Regions from separate parts of the Homo sapiens genome. Here region 1 is linked to region 2. Evidence: fine-mapped expression QTL. A gene starts in region 2. The other region holds a variant in brackets. All regions are shown on one strand. Distances are from middle to middle.

Region 1 (11,044 bases), 37 kb before region 2:
AAAGAAGACAGAAGGGCTGAGAGGGACAGAAGGGACCTATGGAGGAATGCGGAGTGGTAGGGGGCTCAGGGTGGCAGGTAGCACTCAGGGTTGCCATCGGTGTCCTTCTTGCCCTCACACACAGGGGTACTAAGCAGCCCCTGCCACTTTGTCCTTCAGTCAGTGAAGTCAGTGAAGGACTGACCAAACAAAGGAAGAGGCTTGGCCACACCTTTCTCAGCAGCTTGACTTTCAATGTCTGATTCACAGATGAGGTACAGAAGCCATACTCTGGCCACCAGAGCACAGTTACTGAGGCCAGGAACCATCCCTTTCCTGTTCTCTCCTGTGCTGTTTCCCTTGTGATTGCTGCTACAGCTGGCTACACACAGGTGTCCCCTCCCTCTAAAGAATCCTGGGAAGGCTTGCCCTGGGGGCGGATGAGGGCTGCTGCTACAACAGGAGGGGAAAGGCTAATGATGTCATTTGGCTGTCTCTAACCCCCTGTCAGGAAGCCTGGGCACCCCACCCCCACCTGGGCCTCCACTGCTCACTCATAAGCACTGGACATTTGTGCCAGGCCCTCCCATCAGGTCTATACCCCTGCCTGCAGTTCTACATCACGTGTCCCTCACTGTCCTTTTGCATAAGCACACATACGCACACATATACACACTTTCTCTCTCTCTCTCTCACTTTCATATACCTTTGCATATACCTTTGCTGATTACAGTTTCGTAACACTGAGGCCAATACCCTCTTTCACTGTACCTTACACATTAGCTCTTTGCTTGTTCAGCAATTCCTGGTTTCCCACTCAGGGACTGGAAAAAAAAAAAAAAGACTCACACAGTTCCTAAGGGCCCTATCAATGTGTTGGGGACACCAGGGTCTGTGAATATAGAAAACATTCAGCTCCTGCCCCCAGTGCCTTACATCTTTCCTGGTGCTTAAGGAAGCTTCTGCTCATGAACTAAGATTATCTTCTCCCAAACAAGCAAATAAACTTCCAGGCACCAAAAAGTCCAAATAGTCACCGAATGGGAACTAGGTCTCAGCTACCCAATATAGTATGTTCTCCCCACCCTCAGCCTTCTCTGAGCCTCGCTTGGCCCAGCACCAGGCCACAGGCAGACTCCAGTCTCAACTGCTGTGGGAATGTCTTCCACTCAAAGCCACAGGCAGAGGACCCCAGGAGAGGCCTCAAGCTTGCCAGAAACATCTAGTCAGCAGCTGGCAGAGCTGAGGGGGTAGAAAAGCCAGTAAAGAACCAGTCCAAAGCTCTGGGGAGCCAGAAGCCATTCAAGGGGCAACTCTGCCCCATGGCAGGGAAGATGAACAGGAACACCATCCTCAGAGGACACCAGACCCTGTGTGCCCAGCCAGCAGCCTGGGGCCAGATGAAGAGGCTATACGGCCAATCCAACTCACCCAATGTGGTTGGTGCGAAGAGAGATCTCCAGCTCCCTTAGTACTTTGGTTGACTCCTGCACCCTCCTCCTGAACTTCTGTAAAAAGGGTAGGAAAGGAAGGGAATACAAGAGGGCAGTTATAGACTTTCCCTCCATTACTGGCCAGCCATTCCAGGCCCTTGGCCACAGAACCCTGAAATCCAACTCCCAATGCTCAGAAACAGATGTCCAATATCCAAGTCAAAGGGTTTGCCCCCAAACCCCACAGGACTATAAAGGGTGGCAAGACGGGGACTCTCTGCCTCATACTTCACCTTCCGAGTTACACTGGGGTCCAAGAAGCTCTGGAGTTTCTGAATGTAAGTGTGGGGAGGATTCTTCACCTGGAATCGTTCCTGTAAGGGAAACATGCATATGCGTATCCACAAAGACAACCAGAGACCTGAGGAGGGCACTGAGGAAGAAGAGCATTCATAGTGTTCAGTGTGAGGGGGACTCAGCCTCTCCAAGTTGTCACCTGGCTCTAGATATCACCTAAACTTGAGGTTCCCTTCCTTGACTTATCCCCAGGTGTTACCACCTGTTGCCATCTCCTCCTCCTCCAATTAGTGCTCCCTGAGCCTAAAATGTTTTTCTATGTCAAAAAGTATTTTAAAAGTGTGCTGCTTGCTACAAAGATGTTGGGGATTACAGAGTTGTGAACAGCACCCAAAATAAAGATATAATTGATTGCGCTTGGGAGGTCGAGGCAGGGGGACTGCTTGAGGCCAGGAGTTTGAGAATAGTCTGGATAACATAGGAAGACTCTGTCTCTACAAAAAAAACTTTAAAAAATTAGCCAGGCATGGTGGCTACCACATGCCTGTAGCCCTGGCTACTTAGGCTGAGGTGGGAGGATCCCTTGAGCCCCGGAGTTTGAGGCTACAGTAAGATATGATCATGCCATTGCACTCCAGCCTGGGCAACAGAGTGTGATCCCTCTCTAAAAAAAAAATTAAAAAAAGATATGATTGGGAAATGCTGTTCACTGCCTGGCCAACTAATGGATATGGGTTAGGAAGGCCAAGGGGAGAGGAGCTTGGCTTTGTAGAATCCAACTTTCTCAGCAATGAACTCTGCAGTTGGGACTGGAATGGTTTTGCTGAGCTGACACAGCTCAGGGCTGCAAACACTGCTCCTTGCCCAGACTCCCAACAATCCAAAGCAACCTCAAATACTGAAGGCTGCATTCAGCAAGGTCATCCCTCGATTCCCTTCTACCTAGGACCTGGGACCACGTCCTACTTTAGGCCAACCCCTTCATCTGACCCAAAAAGAAACTCAGGGAGTACCCCTTAGCATTCTGGTCCTATTAGAGCTGCCACCACCAAGATATCTGAAGAGCTGGTGGGTGGAGGGGCTGAAAAATGTCCAGGAGAATGATATAATGTTAGAGAGTAGGACCTAAAAACAAATCAAAGAAAAAAACGAAAGGTGTGAGAAACAGCTGAAATTATCTGACCTAGGAAAGACTGAGAGATCAATTAAAGACCCTCAATATCAAAGGGTTACTGTTCTCCAAACCCCAAGCAGGTGCTAACCAACTCCTCTTAATGCAGAACACAAGGATATGGACCTTTGTTGGAGAAGGGACTTGGACTAAGATCTCTGAAGCATACTACTAGCTTACGTCAAGCAGCATGACCTGGGGAGGCAGTGGAACAGAACAGTTAACACAGACTTGGCATCTGCTTGCCTGAGCTCAGCCCTGGCTTCATCACCTACTAGCATTAGGCAAGTTACTGAGCCTTGGGTTCTTCATCTATAAAATGCCAACACTGCCTTCCTCAGAGGGTTCTGTGATGATTAAATGAGATACTTCAGTGTGTTGAGTACTTGGTCCATAACAAGCACTCAATAAATGTTACCTATTATTATTTCACCCAGAGCCTGAAAAGAAATAATAAAATTGTACATGGCAAAGTGCTGGGTAAACACACTACCCACACTGCCAGATACTTCCATCTCTACCAAGATGTAAAAAGGTAAAAGCCAACTCTCCCAGCCCTGCATACAGTCCTGTCTCATTTCACAGACTCGTGACTCATGATCTTCAAATGCATGCAAGGGAAAGAGCCAGGTCATATGTGTTAGAAGACTCTCAACTCTGAGCAAAGTAATGATTTCTATTCTCTTCCAGCTCTCAACACTGTTCATGCAGAGAGAGTTTCCAGACCTTGACTCTTCTGAGATTTGGGAACAAAAGACTAGAGTCTGGGGCTTCTCATTCCTAGAGGCCCTGAGATAATGAGAAAGACCCTGCTATTTGCCAGGGCTAAGACAGAGTGAGAGATCAACAGTCCTTTGAGCACCCTACCGGGCATAGCCCTGAACCTGCACAGCCAATCCTATACCCCTGATCTACACAAATCCCCTTATACTATTGCCCATTGGAAGAAATCAAGACAGCTCTTTGTGGGAGCTAGAGGGGAACTTGGCCTGCCAGCTCTGTCTCTGTTATGAGAATCCTCTTGGAAAAGAAAGTGAACACAGATGAGGCCAAGCTTAGGCCAGGGTTCCTCAAGGAACCCAAGGCTGCACTCAATGCCTTTGGCCCCACAGCCTTAGCCAGCCCAAGACACAACTCCCTACCTCCCTCCTCTTTCCCAAACCCCATACCTGGTCACAGATCAGATCCCATTTCTTCTCATTGTCATACTGCCGCAGGAGCCGGGCCTTGTCTGGAGGCAGGTTCATGGAGCTCTGAGGAGAGAACCTGAGTCAACAAGGCTGAAACCTCCCCTCATCTGGAAAAGAGAAAGACTAGACTGCCCACACCTTTCTGCTACTGGGCCCTCAGACTTCACCCTGACACTCCATCGCTGATAAGGCAGGCTTGGAAAGGTAGAACAGTCCTCCAGCCTCCCCTTCATGTTTGGTTGAGCAATGTTTTCCAAACCACTGGTAGTAGAATCAATTTAATCAGTCAAAATTAACTCTATTTTAAATGAAAACGAGCTGATTAAAATAGGATAGAAGATACCAGAATTCGGAAGTATAAATAATGTTTTGTGAAGCTTTAGTTTCTTTTCTATTTTATGTATATAAACAAATATGTCATATACATACATCATACCATAAAATGTGACGGGAACATGAGATGGGTCAAAAAATTTGAAAACCCACCAGGTTAAAGCAGCAATTTTTTTCAGTTTGCTTTTCCCCCATAACCTGAGAGATGGGCAACTTGCCTACAACATCCATTCCCATGGGCAAATCCTGAGCCACCCACAACCTATGTAGATGCTATAACTGTGACCCTCTTGCCCATATCAGCACACAAGTGAATGAGAAGAACATTAGCATGAAGATAACTGCTTAAATTTTTTTGGAAAAGAATTTTTAGGCAAAAATTCACAAAAGTACCAGACTTTAATTGTTAGTAGCAAATTTCTTATGAAACACCTCCCAATTAATTAAGACACAGCAAAGCACCCTAACCCCTTGGCAAGCCACTCTAATACAGGCTATTTGAAGGACAGACCAGGAATCATTTTATCTTGTTCACCACTGTTTGGTGACTGAATAAGGTACGAGAGAATGAGTGAGTGAAGCCTAAGGACTTCATCCATGGACTAGCCCTACCCATGCTAGGAGGCTACGTTCCCTACCTTTATCCCCATTCAGTCAAACCTTTCTTCTCATCAGTCTGGCTGTCTTTGTTCCAGGTCACAGCCCTTACCTCTAAAGGCAGTCTGGGCCAGATGCAGTAGCTCACACCTGTAATCCCAGCACTTTGGGAGGCCGAGGTGGGCGGATCACTTGAGGCCAGGTGTTCAAGACCAACCTGGCCAACATTGCAAAATCCCATCTCTACCAAAAATACAAAAATTAGATGGGTGCAGTAGCGCACACCTGTAATCCCAGCTACTCAGGTTGCCAAGGCACAAGAATTGCTTGAACCTGGGAGGTGGAGGTTGCAGTGAGCCAAGATCACGCCACTGCACTCCAGCCTGGGCAACAGAGAAAGATTCTATCTCAACAAAACAAAACAAAACAAAACAAAACAAAACAAAACAAAACACACAAACAAAAAAGAATAAAGGCAGTCTGACACTTTAATCAGACCACTGTACCTGCTCCCTCGTAATCTTGAATCAAATATGATCGCCTACCCAAAGTGTCGCAGCTGC[G/A]TGATCACCCATGTGACTTCCCACAAATTCAGCTTCTTCTTAAGCATAGTGCCAGCCACCTAGAAGGCTGCCTCTCATCTTTCTCTCCTTTAACTACTGTCCAGGTTCAGCTCTAACTCCCTGGTAACCCAAGCATGACCACTTCATTTACCTCTGCCCAATTCTTGGCATCCTCATCCCTGGGGACATGAACTGTGTGCATCCAGGGTCCCTGAGGAGTCACATAGGCCCTGCATTATTCCAGAAGAGGCAAACAAATCCTAGAAGGAGGTCCTCTAACTTTCGATGGAACCAAAAGAAAATCCCAAACATTTATTCTGTCATATTATCTATTTATTATAAACATAACTCAGATATACTCCTAAACCAGCTGTATACTCATCTAGCCCCTAAAGTGCTGTGTCTATTTTCACCATCTCCAGCTCCCAATATGCATCTAGTGGGGGCAGTAAGGTGATAATAAACTTATGTGGAAGAGGTCCCAGGTCTGAGCTACAAGCCCAGCTACTGGCTGGAAACGAGGTCACTATAGCTCAAAAAGGAAGTAGGGTTGAAGTCTTCAGTTGGAATTTATACATGGAAGAATTTAGGACCAAAGAAGTGGGGCAGGTGAGAGAAACAAAGAAGGGGAAGAAAGCCCCACATCATACCTCTCCCCATGGTTCCTGCTGCACTATGCATCTGCCTGAACTTCCACAGGAAAGTGAGGCTGAGTCCTCCTCACAGTCTATGTAGGATGGATGGCAAGATGGTCAAACACAAGCCTGGAATGTTCTCTCTGAAACTACTTTGTTAAGGCCAATCTCAGCATACCCGTGTGGACAGCAGGACAGGAGCAAGAGGCCTCAACAAAACAAGGACTCAAGGTCAACCCAGAGTAGATCTCCTAACTCAGCCTAACTGTGGCCAGGCTGCTGCCAGATGAACTCAAGACAGAACTGAGCAGAAATAGTCCTCAGGACTGGCCCTGGCTCTGTGCATATCCTAAACACATCGCTGCCATCTGACCATTTCTCCTAAGTCTGTGCCATGAAAATAGTTTTCTGTTGTCTCCCCTGGAAGAAAGCTGCTGGAATGGAGGAGGGGGCAGCCTGTCACTGCTGTGGCAGACATCACATCCTGTCTATGCCAACTTCCTCCCTCAGCCACCCACTGTCAGCAGCTGTGGCTCATACTTCTCCACCAGGTGAACTGATGAGGAAACACTTGGTCCCCTCGGTTTGAAAAACTGGGCAAAGTCACCCCCTTGGGGAGTCCTGGCCTAAGAGCATGGAAGAGGCACAGCAGGGACCTGGTCAAACTCTAGATCCCCAGGAAGGAATGATCCCAAAGTATGGAAACGGGTGGTAGAGGCATGAAGTAGGTCTGACCATAGCCATATCCTCCTGTCTTGAGCTTTGGGTGGCACTTTCTTGACAGTGGTCTCAGACTTCTCTGCTTCTTCTGGGCTGAAGTGTGATAGGGAAGGAGGTGGGTAAGGGGAATTCCCCCAAGCTCCAGCATTCTCAGAAGAAACGGGTCACTGGCTGCCAGTGGGAGCCACCTGCCAAGGGGGCATAAACCAGAGCCTGGCCTGGACAGTTCTCTTCCTGCTAGACAAGGGCATCAGGGCTTTTGCCTCTACCTGATAATGTGTGTGAGTCTGGCAGGGCTCCAATGTCCTAAGGAAGCCTCTCTGCCCTTAGGAATGACAACTTCCTGAGTTCCGGGGACAGCAAAGTAGCAAATTTGACACAGTTCCGGTCTCAGTCAAAAGTTTGTTTCCTTGACATTTTTTCTTCAGTGGTTCCACAGACACTGTAGGCTCCCAGAAGGCAGAAGCTGAGCTAAGTTCTTGCTAACTCCTCATTGAGACCCTTGCTGAGCAGAAAGGAGGCAGTGGCTGTCTTGGAAAGGAGAGGGCACTAAATGTGGGTGAAGTCAGAGGGCCCAAGATCAACTTTGGGCTCTTCAGAGTTATGGAGCCTTGGTGAACGCATCCATAAACGAGATAATCTCACTACTTCACAGGGTTTTAGCTGAGGATTAAAAGATAAATATTTTATGTCTGTATGTGTCTGGAACACTGTGGGTGTTCAACACAGTCCCCCTCACCGCCTGCTTCCTCCCGAAAATCTTGTGTCATGTTCTGATGTCCGAGGGACCTGCCCTCTTGCTTCTAGGCTGTCTCTCTCTCTCTGCCTCCATCCCACCTTCAGCAATTGCTTCGCAACACTCTGACTACAGAGCAATCCATTATCCCTTCACTGATCCTGCTCTGGCTTCCTCTAAGACTAGGCGCCAATTTTGGTATCATTATCTTGAGGGGTGGGGGACATGGCAGGAGACTCCAAGGAAGAAGTAAGGGAGGTAAGTCACAGCCAAAACAGTCACAATAGGAGATGTGAGGAAAAGGGGAAGATGAACTCAAACTGAAAGCAACTCTGGGACCGATTCCTAAATCACAGGGAACCAGCAAAACATCTAATAATAAAAATCTATAATGGGAAGAAGCCGAAAGGCATGGAGCTGGTGCTTCTCCAGCAAGGCTGCTCTGTTTGCCAGTTTGAGGCCAGGCAAATCTCCCTGCACAATGGGGTGCATGTGAGCAAGGCCTGGTCCCTCCAGCAAGGTTTCCTAACTCTCCACCTGACCCCTGACAGCCCCAGTCAAGCCAAGGAGGGAGGCAGCTCTGGTGGCAGAGGTTCCCTTCCCTTTCCCACTCTGCACCCCCAGCCCAGTGAGCCCCTCCTCATTTCCTTCCCACTGCAGGGGAAGGGAAATGCCGGTAGGGTTTGGAGTTTCCTTCAAAGCTGTGAGCTCTGCTCTGGGACTTGCCCCTACTCTGACAGTCTTCTTGAGCCAGGCCTGGGGAAAACCCAAAAAACAGAAATAGGAACCACCAAAAATTCCCAACTGTTTTTGTTGGTCCCTATCATGATAAATCTTAGGAACAGAGACCAAAATGGCATAGCTTCGAGAGACAGGGAGAGAGACGTTTGTAATGTTCCTGGGAAAGAAACTGGAGGCTTTAGGGAAGCTCCAGCAGGGGCTGTTTGTTTTGAGCAAATACAGAAAGTGAGAGGTAGTTTTATTAATGTTTTCCCTCTTGAACCACCTCCCACCAGGTTTCCTATGGCTGTCTTCTCCCAAGTGTGGTAGCCTCAGCCCCCACACTCAGCCCATGGGGACAGGGAGTCCTGAGAAACTGAATCTAGAACTGCCCCACAGATTAAATGAGTGCTGTCCTGGGCACCACACACTTCTCAACGTGCTGCTGAGCCCCTGACCGCAGGTCCAAGTCCTCCGTGGCATCCACAGATCAGCTCATTGAGCAGATGAGCAAAGATGGAAAGTGGCAAGTGGACACAAAATTTGGGAGTCCAGAAGACTGCTGAAGGAGGAGCTGTAACACAGTGTTCCCACCCCATGTTCCCATGTTCCCACTAGGATTCCCCTCACAAACCAACAGATCTGCCCCAAGCCAGTGGCAAAGCAGGCAACACAAGGCACAAAGGCCCATTACTAGCTGCCAAAAGGACAGAGTGTAAGGAACGGCCTCCACATGTCTCTACTGGTGGGCAGTAGGCACAGCTGTGGCCAGTTGGGCCCTGCTCCCAAAGGGCAAGAGCCCAAGGAGGTGGGAGGTACCAGCTCCTGCTGCCTTGGCCCCTTGGCGGCCACAGCCAGTCCTGCCGCAGTAGCAGCTCCTAGACAATGAGAGTTATTTTCAGCCAGCACTTTAACACAAGCCAGCTGGCCAGTGAGCAGGGCGGGAGTCCTCCTCCACCCAGCCCGCCCAGACGGCAGGCCAGCCGGCCCAGCCCATTGCCTACACTGCTGCTGCCGCCGCCTCCACGTCACTGTTTGTTTATCTCATTGTTCCAGCACAGCTCCTTCTAACTCCCCTCAAAACTGCAATCCTTTGTAAAAGGGAATCAAAAAAAATCAGAGAGTTTGATCAAAGGTCCAAGAGCTAAAATTTTAAAAGGTCCAGACATGGGAAGTACGGCAGCCCCTCCAAACACCCACACTTTTCCCCAGCCTTGTGACTGGCTGGGGTAGCACAGGGGAGGAAATGGAACAGATGGATGGTCAGATCTCACTGCAGCTCTCACAGACCAAGGCCAAGCCTGGCTTCGCTGCCAACCTGGGGAGACAAAGCTCAAGACTGCTCTCCTTGCTTTGACTCCCTCCCATCCTCCTCTCCAGAGCTCGGGTTTGGAGAAGATAACTTGAAACAGACAGCCTGAAATGGGCTGAGTCAACTATGAAAGGTTCTGGGCAAAGATCTATATCCTGTGGCAGAAAGGAAATCACAGAACAGTCAATAACACTTGGCCAGAAGGACAGGCAACCCCCTGCCCTGCCTCGATAGAGTAGGGGCAAACACTTCAGCTGTACCACCCCACCACCACACCAAAGCACTCAAGAATATAAAGGATGAAAGGCAGCAGTTACCTCCCTGGACTCTAGGCCTCCAGCCCTGGTCCTGCCAAACTCTACAGCCTCCCCAGGGCAGCTCCCCATTACTACTCATCTCCTTCCTTATGTGACCCCACACACAGAAGCATGTGAGTACAAGTCTAGCTACACAGCTTTCTCTAGGCCCCAGCTGCCCTCTTAGACATCTGAACAAATTGCTTAGGTACCACATGACAAAAGGCATAAGAAAAATGGGTGCTCCTTAAGTGTCTGTAGTATCTTAGATCTGCCTTGCAGGTTTTGTTCAATTGAAGCTACCACTCTGGTGATGAGCTGCCAGGGAAAAGCCAGCTCTCACAGGCTCGGAACCATGTCTGGAGAACGTGCTTTTGTGGTCACTGAGGACTCTGTAACCAGAAATGACTTGCTGAGCAGTTACGGGCCAAGTCCCTGAGCAGCCTGGAAGAAAAAGAAATGGATTCACCAGATGTCTCTGGTTGAGCTCTGCAGTTCACACCAGGGAAGTCAGATGAAGGAGAGGTCCTAAAAGGCCAGCATCATTCAAACAAAGAGATGGCTTTTTCTAAATACAATTATACCCCCGGGGCCTCTTCTTCATCCTAGAGAATTCCTCCACCGGATCCTGAGAAGGCAAAGGATATTGGCCATGTCCCCAAAGTTGGTAAAGCCTCAAACTCTTTCCTCTGCCACACTGTTGGCCTCATACCTGACATGAGATAACCTCTGCAGGTAACCCTGAGGTCCCCAAACCCTGATTAAGGCCACCCTTTCTGGCCTGCCCAGTCAAAAAATATACAATCTCCGATAGGAGCTTCTGTCAGCGCTTCCCAACTGAGCACCCAGGCCCTAGTAAAAAGCTACTGCCACAGCAACTTGATCTGTCTATTGGCTCCTCGGCCCCTCCTCGTGGTTAGCCAGACCCACACACTCCCCAGTTACGCAGAATGGAAAGTATTCTGCTGGGGGCAGCTTATTTTCCAAAGCCAAGGAGTCTTGGGGCAGAGCCTCGCATTCTCCCTGCAGCCAACCAACGACCTCCCTCTCTTCATGAGGTTC
Region 2 (11,044 bases):
GAGACCAGCCTGGCCAACACATGGTGAAACCCCGTCTCTACTAAAAACACAAAAATTAGCCAGGCGTGGTGGCAGGCGCCTGTCATCCCAGCTATTTGGGAGGCGAGGCAGGAGAATCGCTTGAACCCAGGAGGCAGAGGTTGCAGTGAGCAGAGATTGTACCACTGCATTCCAGCCTGGGTGACAGAGTAAGACTGTCTCAAAAACAAAAACAAACCACTTACAATTACTAGCCTGGGAAAACTAATGAAATAACAAAAGCAAAAAACAAACAAAAAAACTGGATAAAAAACATATATACTGGCAGGGCATGGTGGCTCATGCCTAAAATCCCAATACTTTGGGTGACTGAGGTGGGAGAATCACTTGAGCCTAGGAGTTTGAAACCAATGTGGGCAACAAAGCAAGACCCCATCTCTACAAAAAATGAAAAAATTAGCCAGGCATGGTGGCGCACGCCTGTGGTCTAGCTACTCAGGAGGCTGAGGCAGGAGGATCACTCAAGCCTGGGAGTTCAAAGCTGCAGTGAGGTGCAGTGAGCCATGATCATGTCACTGCACTCCACCATGGGTGACAGAGCGAGACTCTGTCTTAAATAAATAAATCAAATATCAAAACATTGTATAAAACTCTATGCAGAGAAAAAAATATAAAGGTTTTAAAGCACATCAGCTGCATTTGGTAAAGGAACTAAGAAAATATTTGCATTTGGTAAAGAAACTAGAGAAAATATGGATGTTTTTCTTTAACCTAAATCTTTAGTCTTTTCTTCTTTCTGAATTGTCCCATACTTTCTTTAGAGAATAAGTATTACTTTAAGAGGAAAACAAAACAAAACAAAACAAAAAAACGCTGAATCTCCCTCTGGGCAATGAAAACATTCCCAAATGACAGAGTCCACTCCATCAGTCCCTTCCCCACCACACACAGGCTTCCCCCAGACTAAGGCAGGGTCATATCAGAAGGTCAAGGGAATAAGACTCCTCTCTGTGGTCTAGGGTCTTCTCTGTGGGGTCTCTGAACAAGAAGAAGGTTCCTCTGACCAGCTGCTGTGAAAGGCCCTTTCCCTGCCCCCTCCCAAGTTCTATTCTAGCCTGAACTAATTCACCACAATCCTGAGGGCTGGGAAAAAAATTTCCACCATGGTGATTTGGAACCTGATATTTAGTCCAAGTTTTTCCCAGCCCATTTCTGTGTCAAAGGAGGCCCCTCAAAGCCTCTTAGACAACTAGCACCCAGGCCAGCTTAGCTCCCACATCAATGCTACACTTACAGAAAAACCCCCAAGTTGTCAGTCATCACCAGGGAAATGTGAGAGGAGAAACTGCAGCAGGGATAGCTCCTGTCACACAACCCTACCCTTATGCCCTGAAAGCCTCCTCCTAAGGGATATACAGGGCTTTTTCTGGCATCAGAACTTTTAGACTCCATGTCAAGTCTGTAGTAAATCAACAAAGAGAAAAATCAGAGTACAATCACAACAAAGACAGACAGCTATCCTTTCAAAGACCTTAGAGCCCTCTGCCTCCCCTCTCTATGGAAAGTCCAGTACTGGCCAGAATACTAGCTTCTGAGCAACTGAGTTTGGGTAGTAATCTAGTTTGGACCAAAACACACTGGGACTGTATCAGACCAGAGATTGGCTCTCATTCTGGTATTCATAAAGAGGAGCTCCATTAATTGCCCCAACCCCAAACTTCTCAATACCCAACAGAATGGGAAGTGCTACTCAGATAGGGGGTAAGGAAGGATGCCAAGAAGCAGTGTAACACAGCAGCTTCACAACCTTTTTCCCATCGAGGCACACCTAGAAAATATTACTGTTTCTACAGTACATGGGGTAGAAGCTGATCCCATCCAGAGGGGACTGACTGGGAACTTTAGCTGCCCCTAGGAATAAGGGGATCAGTATTCCAGCACATCTGTGATCCATCTGCAGCACACTAGTAGGGAAGCCCTGAATTAAGGCACTGGGCTGGGTTAGGATTCTTGGAATCAATGTTCTCATCAAATCTTCTCATAGCCCTCATCTCAAGCTCTTCAACTTTGGCTGACAGATCATGTGTCTAGAACAGAAGGCTGGGAGCCTGTGGTCTTGACTCAGCACTGATACAACTTCCCCAGCGAGGATACTCTTCAGGGGGTTTTCCACAGACACACTTGGGGCTAAGGAAGCCCTCCAGCTTACAGCAGCAGCCATATTCCGAGACTGGATATACACAACAGGGTAATTGGTTTTATCAGATTTCTAAACTTTAAAACCCCTTTTTCGGAACACAAGTGATCTCAGATCTGAGTCACTGCTGAGAGGTACAAACTTAAAAGCTACCATTTACTAAGCATATAGTAGATGCCAGACTCTGCTAAGTATTTGACTTCCAATTTCATTAAATCCACACAACAACCTCATGTGGCAAATGCTATTATTATCCCCATGTATAAGAGAAGACTGGGAATCAGATTAAGTAACTTGCTTGAGGTCAAACACTCTTCTAACCAAAGACTATGGATGAAACAGTTGAATCCACTCTGACTTCAAAGTCCATAAGCTTAACCAGGACACCACTATGTCACCTCAACAAACCTCCCAAATAGCTTTTTCAAAAAACCTAACCAATTATAATGAAGCTGACAATCTAGGAAAGAAAAAGGTGAGAAAGGAACAGTTTATCTGACTGTTTCACACCATCAACAAAAATAAGCTAATCTGGCCAGGCACAGTGGCTCATGCCTGTAATCCCAGCACTTTGGGAGGCCAAGGCGGGTGGATCACCTGAGGTCAGGAGTTCGAGACCAGCCTGGCCAACATGGCGAAACCCCATCTCTACTAAAAACACAAAAATTAGCCAGGCTTAGTGGCACGCGCCTGTAATCCCAGCTACTGGGGAGGCTGAAGCAGGAGAACTGCTTGAACCCGGGAGGCTGAGTTTGCAGTGAGCTGAGATCGTGCTGCCGCACTCCAGCCTGGATGACAGAGCCAAACTCCATCTCAAAAAAAAAAAAAAAAAAAAAAAAAAGAAGCTAATCTATAATCTATATTGAGTACTTACTGGGTGCCAAGCACCTTATATACAGGGGCTCACCTAATTCTCACAATCTCACCAGAACAGGATTACCTCCATTTTACAGATGAGGAAGAAGTCTAGGCTCAGAGAAGTTAAGATACTTGCTAAGCCAGAGTCCTTGATTTTTCTACTACACTATGCTTCTCCTGACTGTTCAGGAAATACCCCTAAGCCTGTACCTGGGTCAAACACCTGACTCAGTCAGTACTGTTCCCAAAGCATGGTAGAAAGGGTACCTTTCAGAACAGTGGACACAGGGACACTTAAGAGCCCCCAGAGAAGAACTCAAATCCCCAAGAAGGGATGATTTCCCTGTATTGGAAAACTGAGGTGAAATCCCGTCTCCTGAGACAACTAACTAGCTCTGGCCTGCCCTGTTCCAACCCTTCATCAGCAGCAGCTCAGGCACACAGAAACAAGACCAAAACAAAAGGCATGAGGAAACAAATCAAAATTTTATACAGAAAGGAAGGCATGCAAGTGGGTGGTCCAGTCCCCCATTTGACCTGGGTTCTCCTGGTGCTCTGGTGTCCTGGTTAACTAGGACATCACGTGCATTTTGTGAATATTAAGCCATTAGTTTGCTAACTAAACGAAATGGTCAACCAAGGGCCAATGAGAACATGATGGATTCTGGTTCTGAGCTCTCACAAAAAATGGCCTGGCAGCTCCCACCTAAGGCAGCCTCCCACCCAATCCACCTCACCCCATCCCTTTCTCCCCAGTTTCTATAGCTAACTTGTGTCAGCTTGCTGGGGATTTTCACACCCCCACCAGAGTGCAGATCCCCTCCCACTCTTTTCCCCAACAGTTGGGCTCTTGTTCTCAAGGCCACTAAGTCCCAGTCTCTCCTCCTCAGCCTGTGAGATGGTCACAGCACATTGGTAATCACTGACTCACCCGATCCCCCGAGGAGGCTGGGGGAAATGCAGAGGGCCACAGGATGTATGGCCCACATCCCTTTGGCCCTTCGCAGAGCTGGCGGGCAGAGAGGTGCCAGCGACACCACTTCCCCTTGGAACACTGTGGACCCTCTTTGAGCCAGCTCTGGTGCCAGTGGGCTGATGTCAGATTCTCTACCATCGGAGAGGCCAAGATCTCTAGACAGCTCCACTGTTGCCAACAGATCTAATCTCCTTATTCCAAGGCAGATGAAATCCAATAAGGCTGCTAAGTCCACAACTTATCCCTCCTGATGGGCAGAGGCAAAGGCAGAGTCGGCCATACCAACAATAACGCCAGAATTATTACTGCTTCTTAGAAAACTCTTTGGGGAAGTGAGAACTATTTCCCCAAATTTCTCAAAGATTAACCCCGGTTTACCAATGTTTTCGCTCTGCAAAACTTCATTTTCAGCGCAAACATATTTTCTGGCTCCTTCCCGGTGATACCAGCTCAGAACCTCTCGCTTCATAGAGCCACTGACATCAATGTCCAATTCCCACACCAAAGAAGAATCCCAAAGTCAGCTCTAAAAACCCATTTATACAGACCGTTTGAAACCCACAGAAAGACTAAAAAGCACAGGCTAAACAACACAAACCAGTCACTATGGCTTAACGTGAAAAGGGGGGGAGGAGGCGGGATGGTTTGTGTATTGTTTCACTTGGAGAAATACCCCAGTGAAATGGTTTATCCACATGTTCAGCCTTTCAGGCAAATCCACTCTAACTTAGCAGGATGCCTGCAGGCCGTTCTGAAAATAAGCAGAATGGCATACTCTTTATTCCACCCCCTTCAGGAGCTGCCAGCCGCCTCCCCATCCCCCTCTCCCCCCAAACATCTGGTCTGGGCTGGGAGTGGGACCCACTCCCTGGGAAGCCTCCATGTTCGCAGGAGAGGCGGTGTCCCCACTCAGGGAAGCCTGCTGAGGAGCGAGCCGGCCGCGCTTCTGAATTCCCCCCACCCGCGAGAGGCTCCGGGCTGAGAATGCTAGGGACGGGGAGCCTGGCGAAGAAGCGGGGAAACGGGAAAAGGGCAGCAGAAGGGGGAGGAAGAAGGAGGGAGAAGCCTGGTTCCTAGGACGGTCCCGAACTGGGGACTTCTCCTAAGGGTCCAGCGGTGGAGGCGTCGGTCCCGAGATCCCCGACGGGGCTGTCCGGGCCGGCCAGCGGCTGCTCAGAGGTTCCTGGGAAGACACTGGAGGCCGGGATCCGTTCGGGACCCCGACTGAAAGGGTGGGCGGGACGGGGGCCCAGCACAAAGTCCCAGCCCGGGCGTCGGGACCTGAGGGGCGGTACGCGGGGGAAGGGGCTGGGCTCAGCTCTCACCAGCACCAGGGCGAACCTTTCCTCCAGCTCACAGGGCTCAGGCATCGGCATCTTGCCGGGCGGCAGCAACAACGGGACAGAGGGGGGCTCTCCCGGGACCCCCTCGGCGCTCTCCAGGTTGCCCATCGCGGCGGGGCCCCCTCAGGGGCCTCGGCCCCCCACCTCCACGCTCCGGAGCTTTCGGCTCCGCGGCTCCGACCAGGCTCCTCCCTCAGCGCCGGCTCCCCGAGTCCCGACTCCTCGGCCCCGTCGAGGGCGCCGGGGGTTCCCTGGAGTCCCGCTGGCGGGGGCGCGCGGCGAGGGCGGAGGCAGCGTAGCGGACAGCCGCACCGAAGCAAGGCGGACGGAGGCGGCCGGCTCTTGCTCACACCCGCCGCCTCGCCGCGCTCGGCGCGCCGCCCGGGCGCTGCCCCTCCCCGCCCCCCGCGCTCTTTCCCTTCCCCCGCCAACCTCGCTTCCTCCCACCCACACCCGGCCGAGACTCGGGCTTCCCCCGCGAGCGCCGACTGCAGCCCGCGCGACGCGCGCCCCATTCATGCAGGCCCCGCCTCCCGCCCAGAGGCCTCACAGGCGGCCCGGCCCGCCCCACCTGCGCCCGATTGACGGCCGCGTCTGCCAATCACAGCGCCTCCCGCCCTTGACGGCCTCGTGCCGGGCGCCGAGCGCTCCCTGGCGGCCTCAGCCGGCATCGAATCACCGCGGTTCCCAGAGGGCGTGAGGGGCTGGCGTGGACACACCGGGAATGGACCGTACCCTTTTTCAAAAGGAACTCATGATGTATACAAGTAAGTAAAATATTATACAAGGCATGGCGTACAAAACTAACTACAAGAGAAGTAGAAACAAGCAGGATACTCAGAAGAGGGAGAGAGATAGTACCTGTTAAGAGTCGGGGTGAGGGAGATCATAGTTGGACCAGGCATTGAGGGATGAGGAAGCCCTTACCCGACAGAGGCAGGGGAAAAAACGTTTGGGAGGAGAGAAGCTTAACCATCTGGCTGCGTGTGAAAATGGAGAGGCGGGAGAAGAACGCTGTTCTGGGCTCAGTCGGCGGCTGGGTCGTTGACATTTGCGGTGGAAATTTGTTGTCTAGCCGCCATCTTCTTCCAGTGAGAGCACCCCCTTTTCTTTTAGGAAACCACCTCTCCCCTCTTCTCAGTCTAAATGGAGCTGAATTTTATCCCCAGTTCCAAAGGACCGCATGACCCAGGCCCAGTCAGTCACAACATTTTCCTCCTCTACCCATGGACACTGTTTTAGGGATTGTCACTTGACCCAAGCCCAGACAATATGATATATCCAAGGCTTTCTCTGAAACAATCAGGAAAGAGGCACTCACTCTCTCTCCATTTAGGCTGCAAAATTATTAGAATGTAAACCTGCAGCCGCTGGTGGCCGTCTTATCATCACCTGTAACACATCAAGCCTGCTTGAGAATGAAGCCAGCGCAGAGGAGAGAAAAGCTATGAGACAGGACAAAATTCTAATGACATGCCAAGAACCTGGATCTAACCATGCCTGAAGTTATCACCTAGATTTTTAATTCATTTATTCAACAAATATTTATTTTAGAAAGTTTATTCTATGCCAGATACTATTCTGGGCATTGAAGGTACATCTGCGAACAAACAGGATATACATTGTGTCCTCTTGGAATTCACAATCTGTGTAGAAGGAAAGGTAGACAATAAACTAGACGAGTAAAATGTATAGATGTTAGTGATCAGTGTTAATAAAAATAAAACTGAAAGGTGATAGAGATGGAAGAGGCATTAAGATTTTAAATAGAGTTGCTTACTTGGGAGGCTGAGGCAGGAGGATCAATTGAAACTAGGAGGTTGAGGCTGTAGTGAGCCATGTTCATGGCACTCCACTCTAGCCTGGGTGACAGGGTGAGGCTCTGTCTCAATAAATAAATAAACACAGCTGTTGCTTGTCACAGGCATGATGGCTTCAAGGTTAATTTTCAGAGCTGGAGCGCTAGCCGCATAGGCCTGAGGGCTTACAGTCCCAATGGGGTGGTTGCAGTGTGCTTCATGGCATCTGGAGGTGGCGTTCCTACTGATGACAAGCAGATGACTGGGCTGGAGAGGGAGTTCATGACAGCCATGTATGAGATTGGACCCATACAATATATTACCCCCAAAGGCAGCTTCAGGCACCAGGGAAGACCCTAACAGCTCCCTCCATCACCAAGATAATAGTGAGCTGCATCGGTGAAGAGGACAACAGTGCTGTCAACTGGTTCTGGCTGCACAAAGGCGAGACCCAGTGATGCTCTAACTATGAACCCATTACAAGCTGATGTCCCACAAGTTGGCCCAGTGAGCCCTGGCACTAATTGCTCAAAATGTGCTGTAAAGTATCTTCTCTCCAATAAAGACTAGTCATTGCATTGGCTCCTTCTTCCCCTCCCTCATAATAAATATTTTAAATAGGATGATCAAGGAAGGACTCACTAATAAGATAGCATTTGGATAAAGATCTGAAGGATGCAAGGAAATAAGCTATGTGGCTATCTAGGGAAGAATTATCCAGACAAAGGGAATGGCAAGTGCATACTATCTCTGATGTATTAGAAGAACAGCAAAGATGCCAGTGTAGCTGGAGTGCAATGAGCAAGGAAAAGGGTAGTGAAAGATGAAGTCAGAAAGGTAACCAGAAGCCATATATTGTGTAGGATATTGTAGGCTATTGTGTGAGGACTTCGGTTTTCTCTAAGTAGGATAGGTAGCCATTGGAGGATTTTGAGTAGAGGAGTGGTATGATCTAACATGTTTTGTAACAGGGATCACTCTGGCTCTTGCATTGAAAACAAACCAATAGAAGTATGGACAGGGAGACTAGTTAGCAGGCTAGTGCAATCATTTGGGTGAGAGATGGTTTGAACCAGGGTGGTAACTGTACCGGTGGAAAGAAATGGTCAGATTCCTTATTAAAGACTTGAAAGTAAAGCTGATGGAATTTCCTGATAGTTTGAATGTGGAGGGTGAATGAAAGATAACTGCAAAGTATTTGACTTGAGCAACAAAGATGGTGGAGTTTTCACTAATTGAAATGGGGGAAGTGATAGGAGGAGTAGGTTTGGTGAGGGGGAACTGGAAAGGGAAGGTCAGGAACAAGTTTGGGCCATGTTGAGTTTGATTTGCCCTTTGGACATCCAAGTAAAGATATCCACTAAGCAATTGGATATAAATGAGTTTGCTCTTCAGACTCATATATGTCTTATTGCGATTGCACCCCGCTGGGACTGCAAGCCCTCAAAGCCTTCATGGCCAGCGTTCCAGCTGTGCAAAGTAACCTTGAAGCCATCATGCCTGCGACAAGCAGCAGCTCTACTTATTAATTTATGCAATTTGGCAATGTAAATTTGGAAATCATCGTCATATAGATGCTATTAAAGCTAGTAAATTCTTTTTCTTTTTTATTTTATTTTTTTATTTTATTTATTTATTTTTTTTGAGACGAAGTCTCACTCTGTCGCCCAGGCTGGAGTACAGTGGTGTGATCTCAGCTCACTGCAAGCTCCGCCTCCCAGGTTCACGCCATTCTCCTGCCTCAGCTTCCTGAGTAGCTGGGACTACAGGCGCCTGCTACCACGCCTGGCTAATTTTTTTGTATTTTGAGTAGAGATGGGGTTTCACTGTGTTAGCCAGGATGGTCTCGATCTCCTGACCTCGTGATCTGCCCGCCTCAGCCTCCCAAAGTGCTGGGATTACAGTCGTGAGCCACCGCGCCTAGCCAAAAGCTAGTAAATTCTTTTTCTAACTCACTATGCATTGGGTTCCTGTTGTTTACAACCAAGAGGTAGAGTCCCTGTCTTTCCAAACCATTGAAACCCTTTCCTGTGAAGCTCAGCCTCTTCTAATCAGTGAACAAATTAATCAGTTCACATCTTATCCCCTTTCTTCATCTCCACTTCTTACCCTAAATACGTGCCTTCCCAACTGCTGTGGCAGACTCTTCTAAGCAGAGGGGTTATAACAAGACTGTAGACTTCCACTAGACAAAAGTTGAGAATTCAAGAAGGGAAATAATTCACCATTTATCATGGATGCACAAGGAACATCTAGCAAAAAGAAGAAACTCGATAGGACAGTGAACAGCAGTGTATTCACCTTTTGTGTGGTTTCTTAGTCCCTAACCTTTTAATTCTGTTTTTGCTTGCCTCAAGCATAACCACCAGATTTATATACTCTAGGGTCTTTGGGGATCTGCTAGATTACTTCTTTCATTGTTAACTGCCTGCTCACCCACCTTTAAATGCTTACTTTCTGTAGGATAAAACTAAAACTCCTTATTCTGATATTCGAGGGTCTATCTCTAAACGCTAATGTCTTCTAATCAAATCAACCCTTTGCTTCAGCTGGAAAGGTCCATCTCCAAACATTAGTTGCTCATTCTTATGTCTGGCTTTGCTCTTTGTGGTAGACAGAATAATGGCTCCCAAAGTATCCATGTCCTAATCCCCAGAACCCGTGTATATGTTATCTTACATGGCAAAAGGGACTTTGCAGATGTGATTAAGTTACAGATCTAGAGATGAGAAGACTCTCCAGGTGATCTCAATGTGATGACAACGGTCCTTATAAGAGGAAAGGCCAAAATGAGGGAGGGAGATGTGATGACAGAAGCAGGAGTCAGGGTGAGGTGGAGCCATGAGCCAAGGAATGCAGTAGCTTCTAGAAACTGAAAAAAGTCAAGGAAACAGATTCTCCCCTCAATCCTCTATAAGGAACATGGCCCTGTCAACACTTTAATTTGAGCTCTGTTAGACCTAATTTCAGACTTCTGATCTCTAGAACTATAAAATCATAAATCTGTGTTGTTCTTAGCCACCGTTTGTGATAATTTGTTAGAGAACCAACAGGAAACTAACACATTCCTGCTGCGTCCCTGATCTGGATTTCTTCTTCCTTCTACTCCATCTATCCAAATCCCACCCAGGCTTAATACAATCTTTAGGTTTATTGGGTGCTTATGTGCAAAACATCTGACTAGATGCCGGTAGATAAAGAAAGAATGCAAGATGAAAAGGTGAACAAGAGACCTGCTGCCAACTTCAAAAGAGCTCCAAGTCTGGTGCAGGAGAGGCAAGGTAGAGCGGAGGAGTGTGGACCCAGTTTGAAGGAACCGTGTAAGATCATTGGTATTATATTGGTGGGTACCAAGTTTCATATCCCATCCTGGAGTTTTCTCAAATTCAAATGATCATGACTCTTGTTTTCTCTACTTTTCATTTGGAACTTGTAGATATGTAACTCTTGGTTCCTTTACTGCCTTGTGCTGTTTAATTTTTTTTTTTTTTTGACAGAGTCTCACTCTGTTGCCCAGGCTGGAGTACAGTGGTGCAATCTTGGCTCACTGCAACCTCCACCTCTGGGTTCAAGTGATTCTCCATCCTCAGCCTCCCGAGTAGCTGGGATTACAGGTGTGCACCACCACATCCAGCTAATTTTTGTATTTTTAGTAGAGACTGGATTTCACCATGTTGGCCAGGCTGATCTCCAACTCCTGACCTTCGGTGATCCACCTGCATAGGCCTCCCAAAGCTGTTTAATTTTTTGTCTATGTCTTGTCTGGTCTGTGGAGCTTATTTGTTTATTTAAAAGTATATATATCCAGTCCTCTTTTATTTCAGGTACTAAGGAAGATCCAGATATGAATAGGTGTCTTTCTTCCCTGTGCTCACAATAGGGCTAGTAGGAA

Evidence for each region. PIP is the estimated chance that this variant, and not a neighbour inherited with it, causes the effect.
Region 1: its variant is fine-mapped to the expression of FMNL3 in whole blood (TOPMed, PIP 0.98).

The regions. Positions count from the first base shown.
Region 1 is chr12:49,664,422-49,675,465 of GRCh38, forward strand. It overlaps FMNL3 (formin like 3), which reads right to left. Exons shown (of 26, transcript NM_175736.5): 2 at 4,050-4,133; 3 at 1,706-1,786; 4 at 1,411-1,487. Among named protein-coding and RNA genes, the nearest start is that of FMNL3, 37 kb to the right of the region's middle. RefSeq lists enhancers at 9,097-9,795, 10,019-10,108, 10,159-10,238. The variant G/A (reference allele first, on the strand shown) is at 5,564.
Region 2 is chr12:49,701,720-49,712,763 of GRCh38, forward strand. FMNL3 (formin like 3) reads right to left here and starts at 5,686. Exons shown (of 26, transcript NM_175736.5): 1 at 5,336-5,686. The coding sequence starts at 5,461. LOC124902929 (a long non-coding RNA gene) reads left to right here and starts at 6,007. Exons shown (of 3, transcript XR_007063299.1): 1 at 6,007-6,120. It also overlaps the pseudogene COX5BP5. RefSeq lists enhancers at 2,197-2,286, 2,307-2,396, 6,120-6,269 and a silencer at 5,330-6,099.